Linked DNA regions of Homo sapiens. The protein of the gene in region 1 purifies or fractionates together with the protein of each later gene. This does not show direct contact. Each region holds a gene or a part of one and is shown in the gene's direction. Other genes may lie near its edges.

Region 1 (3,600 bases):
GAAGTTACGGTAAACTGGTGGGAACATGCCCTGCCTAAAGCAGGCAACTGCTACTCAGTTCCATCTGAGTGTTGTCCTTTAGAAATGTGGACCCAGTGTTAGATCTCCTGACTTTTCAGGAGAAGCCCCAAATCCAAACTTTATGTGAGATAGTCCAGTTTAAATATTGGAAACCAAATCAATTACTTAAAAATACTGTGAAGATCAAAGAAACAGATCTGCTGGTTGGAATCAGCCAGCAGGATGCCTATTTGTAATCTCTGGTCTAGACTGAAGGCTCCCTGGGCAGTGATGGGGCCAGTGCTAAAACTCAGGTCCCCCAAGTTCCAGCCCAGTGCTTATCTCACTTGAGGACTGTAGACACATGGTCTCCTCACTTCCTTTCCTTTCCTCTTCCTGTTGACCCTGGGCTCATTTTCTTCCTTTGCTGTTTCCTGCTGGAAGGCCCAAAGCTGTGAGGTAGTTTTTTTTTTTTTTTTTTTTGAGACAGAGTCTCGCTGTGTCGCCCAGGCTGGAGTGCAGTGGCGCGATCTCGGCTCACCGCAAGCTCCGCCTCCCGGGTTCACGCCATTCTCCTGCCTCAGCCTCTGGAGTAGCTGGGACTACAGGCGCCCGCCACCACACCCGGCTGATTTTTTGCGTTTTTAGTAGAGACAGGGTTTCACCGTGTTAGCCAGGATGGTCTCGATCTCCTGACCTCGTGATCCACCCGCCTCGGCCTCCCAAAGTGCTGGGATTACAGGCGTGAGCCACCACGAGAGGCAGGAGTTTTTCTAATAGAAAATTGTACATAAGATGTTGCAAGCATGAAAAAAATAAAAAGATGTTGGTCTCTGTTCTAGAGAGCAGGGAGTTGAAGGGGAATTGTAGAGAGAGGAATGCAATCTCAAGAATATCAGTCTAGGCTTGGAAAAAAATTGGTTCTCTTATTAGCAGCATAGTATGACCTCGGGCAGCTTCTTTGGGTCTGTTTCCTCATCTTCAAAATGGAGATTGTATCTGCCTCACGGGACTGTTGCTTGAGATCAAACGTGTAAAGCACTTATGTGAACAATGTACTAAATGCTCCATGTAGAAGCAATTTCTGCAGTCAATGTTTTATTAAGGGAGTGACTGGCTGTGATTTCTCCATCTTGTATTTCCCTTCTACCTTAGCTCTTTCTCCTACTCCCTTCCTACAAACACCCACACCCTTTCCTCAGGAATGGAACTGAGATCTCCAGAGGGGAATGGTGAGAAAGGAGAATGCTAGATAGGAAATGAGAACTGAAGATATTGATTTTGTTGCTACCTGGGCTGAAAGATACAGCCACAGGCAGAAATCAAGACGGTAAATCCTCTGGGGGTCTATGAAGAAAGAGGACCAGAGAAAGCCAGTCTATGTTTATTTCAGGTCCTGCTGGTCAATCTTTGTGAAGGAACCTTCTTAATGTCGGTAAGTGTCTGGGTTCAGATCCCCTGCAGGCCTATCAACAACTCTACCACTCTAGTTTCATCCATGTTCCACTTATTTAAACAAACATTTAAGTTCTTTGTTGAGTGAGAATCTGTGCTAAAAAGACCACATCTCTCTCAAGGAGCCCATGGACATAAACACAGATGACTTCACTATAAGACAATCAGTGATAGTGCCTTTTAAGCAAGGGATATAAATCAAGTACCACCGGGATGGAGAGGATCCCTTGCTAATGTCTAGAGTCAAACTAAAGGCCAAGAAACAGCTTCTGTTGTTTCTGTCCTATGTGGCTATTTGCGGGTGGAGTGGGGGTGTAGAATTCATGCCCTCCTTATGCTTTTCTGCCAACCACCTTCACTCCACACTTCCTTCCTGCTTGACCTCGGAGCTCTGTCCTCTTCTAGGTTGGTGATGAAAAAGACATCCTGCCACCGAAGCTTCAGGATGACATCTTAGACTCTCTTGGTCAGGGGATCAATGAGTTAAAGAGTAAGTCCTTACTCTTATTTTGGGTCTCTCCAGGCAGTGCAAGGGCATGCTTCTCAATCATTCCCTTCCAGAACTAAAATGAACTCATTCAGTAGTCCTAGACCAGCCCTAGAGGCCTAGAACCTAGGGCAAGTCTGAATTTGGGATTGTATTCTTCCTAAGCAATGGCAGAGAACTCATACCCAGATTCCCATCTCAGTCAGTAATTATGAACCCTACCCTATGGCTTTCCCCAGGAGCTTTCCGCCTGCAAGAAAGCCATTCTTGAAGGTGAGTTTGGGTAATTTCATCCTTCTGCTACCCTCTGAGATGGCCTTTATATCTCCTGCAGCTGCAGAACAAATCAACGAGCATGTTTCAGGCCCCTTTGTGCAGTTCTTTGTCAAGATTGTGGGCCATTATGCTTCCTATATCAAGCGGGAGGCAAATGGGCAAGGCCACTTCCAAGAAAGATCCTTCTGTAAGGCTCTGACCTCCAAGACCAACCGCCGATTTGTGAAGAAGTTTGTGAAGACACAGCTCTTCTCACTTTTCATCCAGGAAGCCGAGAAGAGCAAGAATCCTCCTGCAGGTACAGTAACAGTCCCCATCAGTCTAAGCCCATAGAGGGTTACCTCTAGAATAAAGAGGAGGGGAAAGAAAGAATACTTCTCTTTAGAAACCCACAAAATAGCTGTAGGTAGACTTTTATTAGTGGAGTTGAAATGACATAACCTGAAACCTAAGAAAATGTCTAATGGGCTGCCATTTTGTGGAAGTTGGTTTACCCATTAGTGAACAGGACTGAGCCCTTTCCTCTGTTTTAGTCTAGAGCTAATTCCTGCTAAGTATCCTCTGTTTATGGGCTCCTTTTTGGACAAAACTGAATGTCTGGATCTCCAGAACCTGTGAGGCCAGAGACATCCTGGCAGGGATGGCAGTATGGGGAGCAGACAGGATATTTCTGATCCTTATTCCTGAGCTCATTATAATCTGCCTGACCAGATCAGATGCCTCTAACACCTGTATTTGAACCCACAGGCTATTTCCAACAGAAAATACTTGAATATGAGGAACAGAAGAAACAGAAGAAACCAAGGGAAAAAACTGTGAAATAAGAGCTGTGGTGAATAAGAATGACTAGAGCTACACACCATTTCTGGACTTCAGCCCCTGCCAGTGTGGCAGGATCAGCAAAACTGTCAGCTCCCAAAATCCATATCCTCACTCTGAGTCTTGGTATCCAGGTATTGCTTCAAACTGGTGTCTGAGATTTGGATCCCTGGTATTGATTTCTCAGGACTTTGGAGGGCTCTGACACCATGCTCACAGAACTGGGCTCAGAGCTCCATTTTTTGCAGAGGTGACACAGGTAGGAAACAGTAGTACATGTGTTGTAGACACTTGGTTAGAAGCTGCTGCAACTGCCCTCTCCCATCATTATAACATCTTCAACACAGAACACACTTTGTGGTCGAAAGGCTCAGCCTCTCTACATGAAGTCTGTGGACATGTAAGGACGAGAGTAAAGAGGAAAATCTTATTTTTATATGTGTCTTTGGCTTTTACTATGGGTAAAAGTATTTTCCTCGTGGAAAATAAGGCAATGAATATGACAATCAAGTGGACTACAAGTGGAAGACCTGGCCATGGGGATATGTTTGGAGTGATAGAAT
Region 2 (3,774 bases), on another chromosome or scaffold:
CTTGCCTGGACCCCCTGACCAGGAAGGGCCGAGTGTGGGTAATCATCAGTTGAATGTCTGCATGGCCCCCACTTTTATTATAAATCTACAATGTATCATAGGAAGCCTTACTGTTCATCCACCCCTCACGTTATAGACAGGGAAACCAAGGCCCTGGGAGGAGATGGGTCCTGGCCAGAATCACACTGAAAGTGGGTGGGAAAGTCAGACCTAGAACCCAGGTCTCCTTCCTCCCAGCTCCAGACTCCATCTCCCTCCTTTCTGAATTTTCATTCCATTGATAGATTTCAGGCCCTTTCATTAACATTCTGGAGTCATTTTCTGTCCCCCACCCTAACTGGAGTTTTTAGTATAAAGAGACAGGGAAAAGCTGTAAGTTAGAAATGAAGTCAGGGTGTGAAATTGGTGGAAAGGTGTGAGCTTAGGAGACCAGCTGGGGCAGAGTGACCGCCAAGCCTTGCTCTCCCCATCTGTGCCATTGTAAGAAAAGATGGAGTCACTCCCTGCACCCTCTTCGCTCTTAGGTACCATAAGATCTGTCCCCCAACTCTCCCAGATCTGTGACCCCACATTCTCTCTCCATAGGTGGAAAAGAGGCTGCTTCAGGCACCACACCTCAGAAGTCCCGGAAGCCCAAGAAAGGGGCTGGGAACCCCCAAGCCTCAACCCTGGCGCTGCAAAGCAACATCACCCAGTGCCTCCTGGGCCAACCCTGGCCCCTGAATGAGGCCCAGGTGCAGGCCTCAGTGGTGAAGGTCCTGACTGAGCTGCTGGAACAGGAAAGAAAGAAGGTGGTGGACACCACCAAGGAGAGCAGCAGGAAGGGCTGGGAGAGCCGCAAGCGGAAGCTATCGGGAGACCAGCCAGCTGCCAGGACCCCCAGGAGCAAGAAGAAGAAGAAGCTGGGGGCCGGGGAAGGTGGGGAGGCCTCTGTTTCCCCAGAAAAGACCTCCACGACTTCCAAGGGGAAAGCAAAGAGAGACAAAGCAAGTGGTGATGTCAAGGAGAAGAAAGGGAAGGGGTCTCTTGGCTCCCAAGGGGCCAAGGACGAGCCAGAAGAGGAGCTTCAGAAGGGGATGGGGACGGTTGAAGGTGGAGATCAAAGCAACCCAAAGAGCAAGAAGGAGAAGAAGAAATCCGACAAGAGTGAGTGACCGCTTCTCCCAGCCCACCCCAAGGGCTGCTGGGCACCCCACGGGGGCGGGAGGGACCCTCAGCCAGCACCTGGTCTCATTCCTCCCATGTAGAAAAGAGAGGCTGAGACCAGCCTGGCCAACATGGCAAAACCCCGTCTCTACTAAAAATACAAAAAATTAGCTGGATGTGGTGGCGGGCACCTGTAATCTCAGCTACATGGGAGGCTGAGGCAGGAGAATTGTTTGAACCCGGGAGGCAGAGCTTGCAGTGAGCCGAGATCACGCATTGCACTCCAGCCTGGGTGACAGAGCAAGACTGTCAAAAAAAAAAAAAAAAAAAAAGGCTGAGAAGTGGTTTGTCCAGAGTCACAGGGGCAGCTTGTGGCAAAGCCCGAACTCGATTCCAGAGCACTTGAGTCAGCACTGCCAGGAATGCTCCAGAAGGACGAGGAGTCATGTCCTCTTTCCCCAAGCCCAGTGCAGCAGATCTTGGAGGAACCTGCTTCTCCAGCCAGCTCCTGGGTGCAGAATGGACCAGGAACCAGACTGTCAGAATCCTCATCCCAAACCCCATCTTGTCTCTAGACCTCAGTTTTCCCTCCATAGTAACACTGGCCCTTTACTGAGTGCTGTTCTAGACTCCGCATGCAGCAGGACCTCATTTAGGTAGAAATGAGACTCAGCAGGTAGAAAACTGCGGCTCGGGCTCGGAGAAGTAGAGATGCTGTTCAGGGCCACAGAGTTTTGCTAGGTGGAGCCAGAGTCAAACCTAGGCAGCACTCTCGAGCATCGCCCTGGACGGTGGGTTGCCAGTGACGCCCGAAGAGCCAGCTCGTTCTGGAACAAAAGTCGGGCACCCTCAGAGCAGGACTTGCAGCCCCTTGGTGCTCAGAACTGTGCTAGATTTCCATTTACAGTAGGGATAGATAGTGTCCATTTAAAATAAATTTGCGGGAGTTTTAAAAAGTGAGTTGAGCTAAAGAAAAATGGTAGTCATCCAGGTGGTCCATGGATGGGACAGAAATCATGAGCTGGCCTCCAGGGGGCAGGTGAACTGGCCCTGCTGGGTGATCACCACAGCTGCCAGCCTGTTTTATTTTTATTTTTTGAGACAGGGTCTTGCTCTGTCACCCAGGCTGGAGTTCAGTGTCAGGAACGCAGCTCACTGCAGGCTCAGCCTCCCAAGCTCAAGCGATCCTCTTGCTTCAGCCCCCCAAATAGCTGGGACCACAGGCGTGCACCACCATCCCCAGCTAATTTTTGTATTTTTTGTAGAGACAGGTCTCACTATGTTGCCCAAGCTGGTCTTGAACTCCTGGGCTTAAGCAATCCACCCGCCTCAGCCTCCCAAAGTGCTGGGATTGCAGGAATGAACCTCCACGCCCCGCCCTGCTGGCCTGTTGTGATGGCTTCTGGTGGTGTGGGGAAAGCTGGGAGCCCTGCCCTGTGCACCTCCCAACATTGACCCCAGCACTTAGGATTACCATCTGTTGTTCAGGAACTTTACTTTACTTCCCTTAGGAAAAAAAGACAAAGAAAAAAAAGAAAAGAAGAAGAAAGCAAAAAAGGCCTCAACCAAAGATTCTGAGTCACCGTCCCAGAAGAAAAAGAAGAAAAAGGTAGAGAGTTCCTGGGGTGTCTCAGGCCAGAAAACAGACCCAAACCCAAGCCCCCTCCTACACACCCAGACCTGGTTCCTGCCCCCTTCCCATTTTCGGGGCCCAGTCGGGGGCGTCAGGGGTTGTGACACACCAGGGAAGAGGCTGGCAGGGCATGTTCCCTGAGCACATGGAAGCCGTAGAAGTGGCCTGCCGGAGGTAGAAGGGTGTTGGGGAAGGAAGGAGAGACTCCCCCCAGCACAGGGAAACCAGGTAGACTGTGGCAGGTTTCCAGGTGAAAGGAAACGTTGCCTGGGCTGCGTGTGCCCCAGCTGGCAGGCTAGCCCTGAACAACAGCTGTCCTCACGGCGCGGGGCCTTAGCACCTCAGACACAGATGAAGTTCTCACCTTGGCCAGCAGGGCCTCAGCTGTATTTAGGAGAGCTGAACATCTGTTTGCCTCTGCCCTTGGAGGTCGCTGCAGACCCAGTATCTATTCTAGGGGAATTCACTAGTCCTCAGGAGGTGGGGGCAGCAGTGGGTGGGGAAAAGCTGCAGGTCTGAGAGCCTCTCGTACTTCCCTCCTCACAGAAGAAGACAGCAGAGCAGACTGTATGACGAGCACCAGCACCAGGCACAGGTACGCTTCCCAATCATTCCTGAGCATTCAGGGTGGGAGGACAGCTCTGGTGTCCCCTGTGGTCCCAGAGAGCCAGGCAGACCTGATAGGTGGGCTCTAAGGGGAAAGGAGGCTGGGGAAAGAGGTTCTGTTGCCAAGGGTCCATGGGGCCACTGGGGTGACATCAGGAGCTGGCACTGCAGCATCAGAAGGATCCAGAACAGTAATGGCAGTGGTGACACCGAGTGCACCTGGGTGCAGGGGTTGTGCATGCTTTAGGGGGTGTGCCCTGGGATGGAGCCTGTTTGTAGGTGAGGTCGGATACAGCTTGGTTCCTCCTTCACTTGTGAGCGGTTCATTTTCCTCATGATCCTGTAACTTGGGGGCATTTCCTTTTGGGAAGGAAGATGGTTTACTCAAG

The links.
Region 2: the proteins of DENND2D (region 1) and TCOF1 purify together in Homo sapiens (affinity purification with mass spectrometry; 3 studies listed by BioGRID and IntAct, with this or other methods). This does not show direct contact.

What each region holds. Positions count from the first base shown.
Region 1 is NC_000001.11:111,187,047-111,190,646, reverse strand, and holds part of DENND2D (DENN domain-containing protein 2D), read left to right. Parts: intron 1-1,393; coding exon 1,394-1,435; intron 1,436-1,860; coding exon 1,861-1,945; intron 1,946-2,276; coding exon 2,277-2,516; intron 2,517-2,965; coding exon 2,966-3,042; 3' UTR 3,043-3,600. UniProt on the Homo sapiens protein: Guanine nucleotide exchange factor (GEF) which may activate RAB9A and RAB9B. Promotes the exchange of GDP to GTP, converting inactive GDP-bound Rab proteins into their active GTP-bound form.
Region 2 is NC_000005.10:150,395,697-150,399,470, forward strand, and holds part of TCOF1 (treacle protein), read left to right. Parts: intron 1-585; coding exon 586-1,146; intron 1,147-2,657; coding exon 2,658-2,755; intron 2,756-3,325; coding exon 3,326-3,352; 3' UTR 3,353-3,374; intron 3,375-3,774.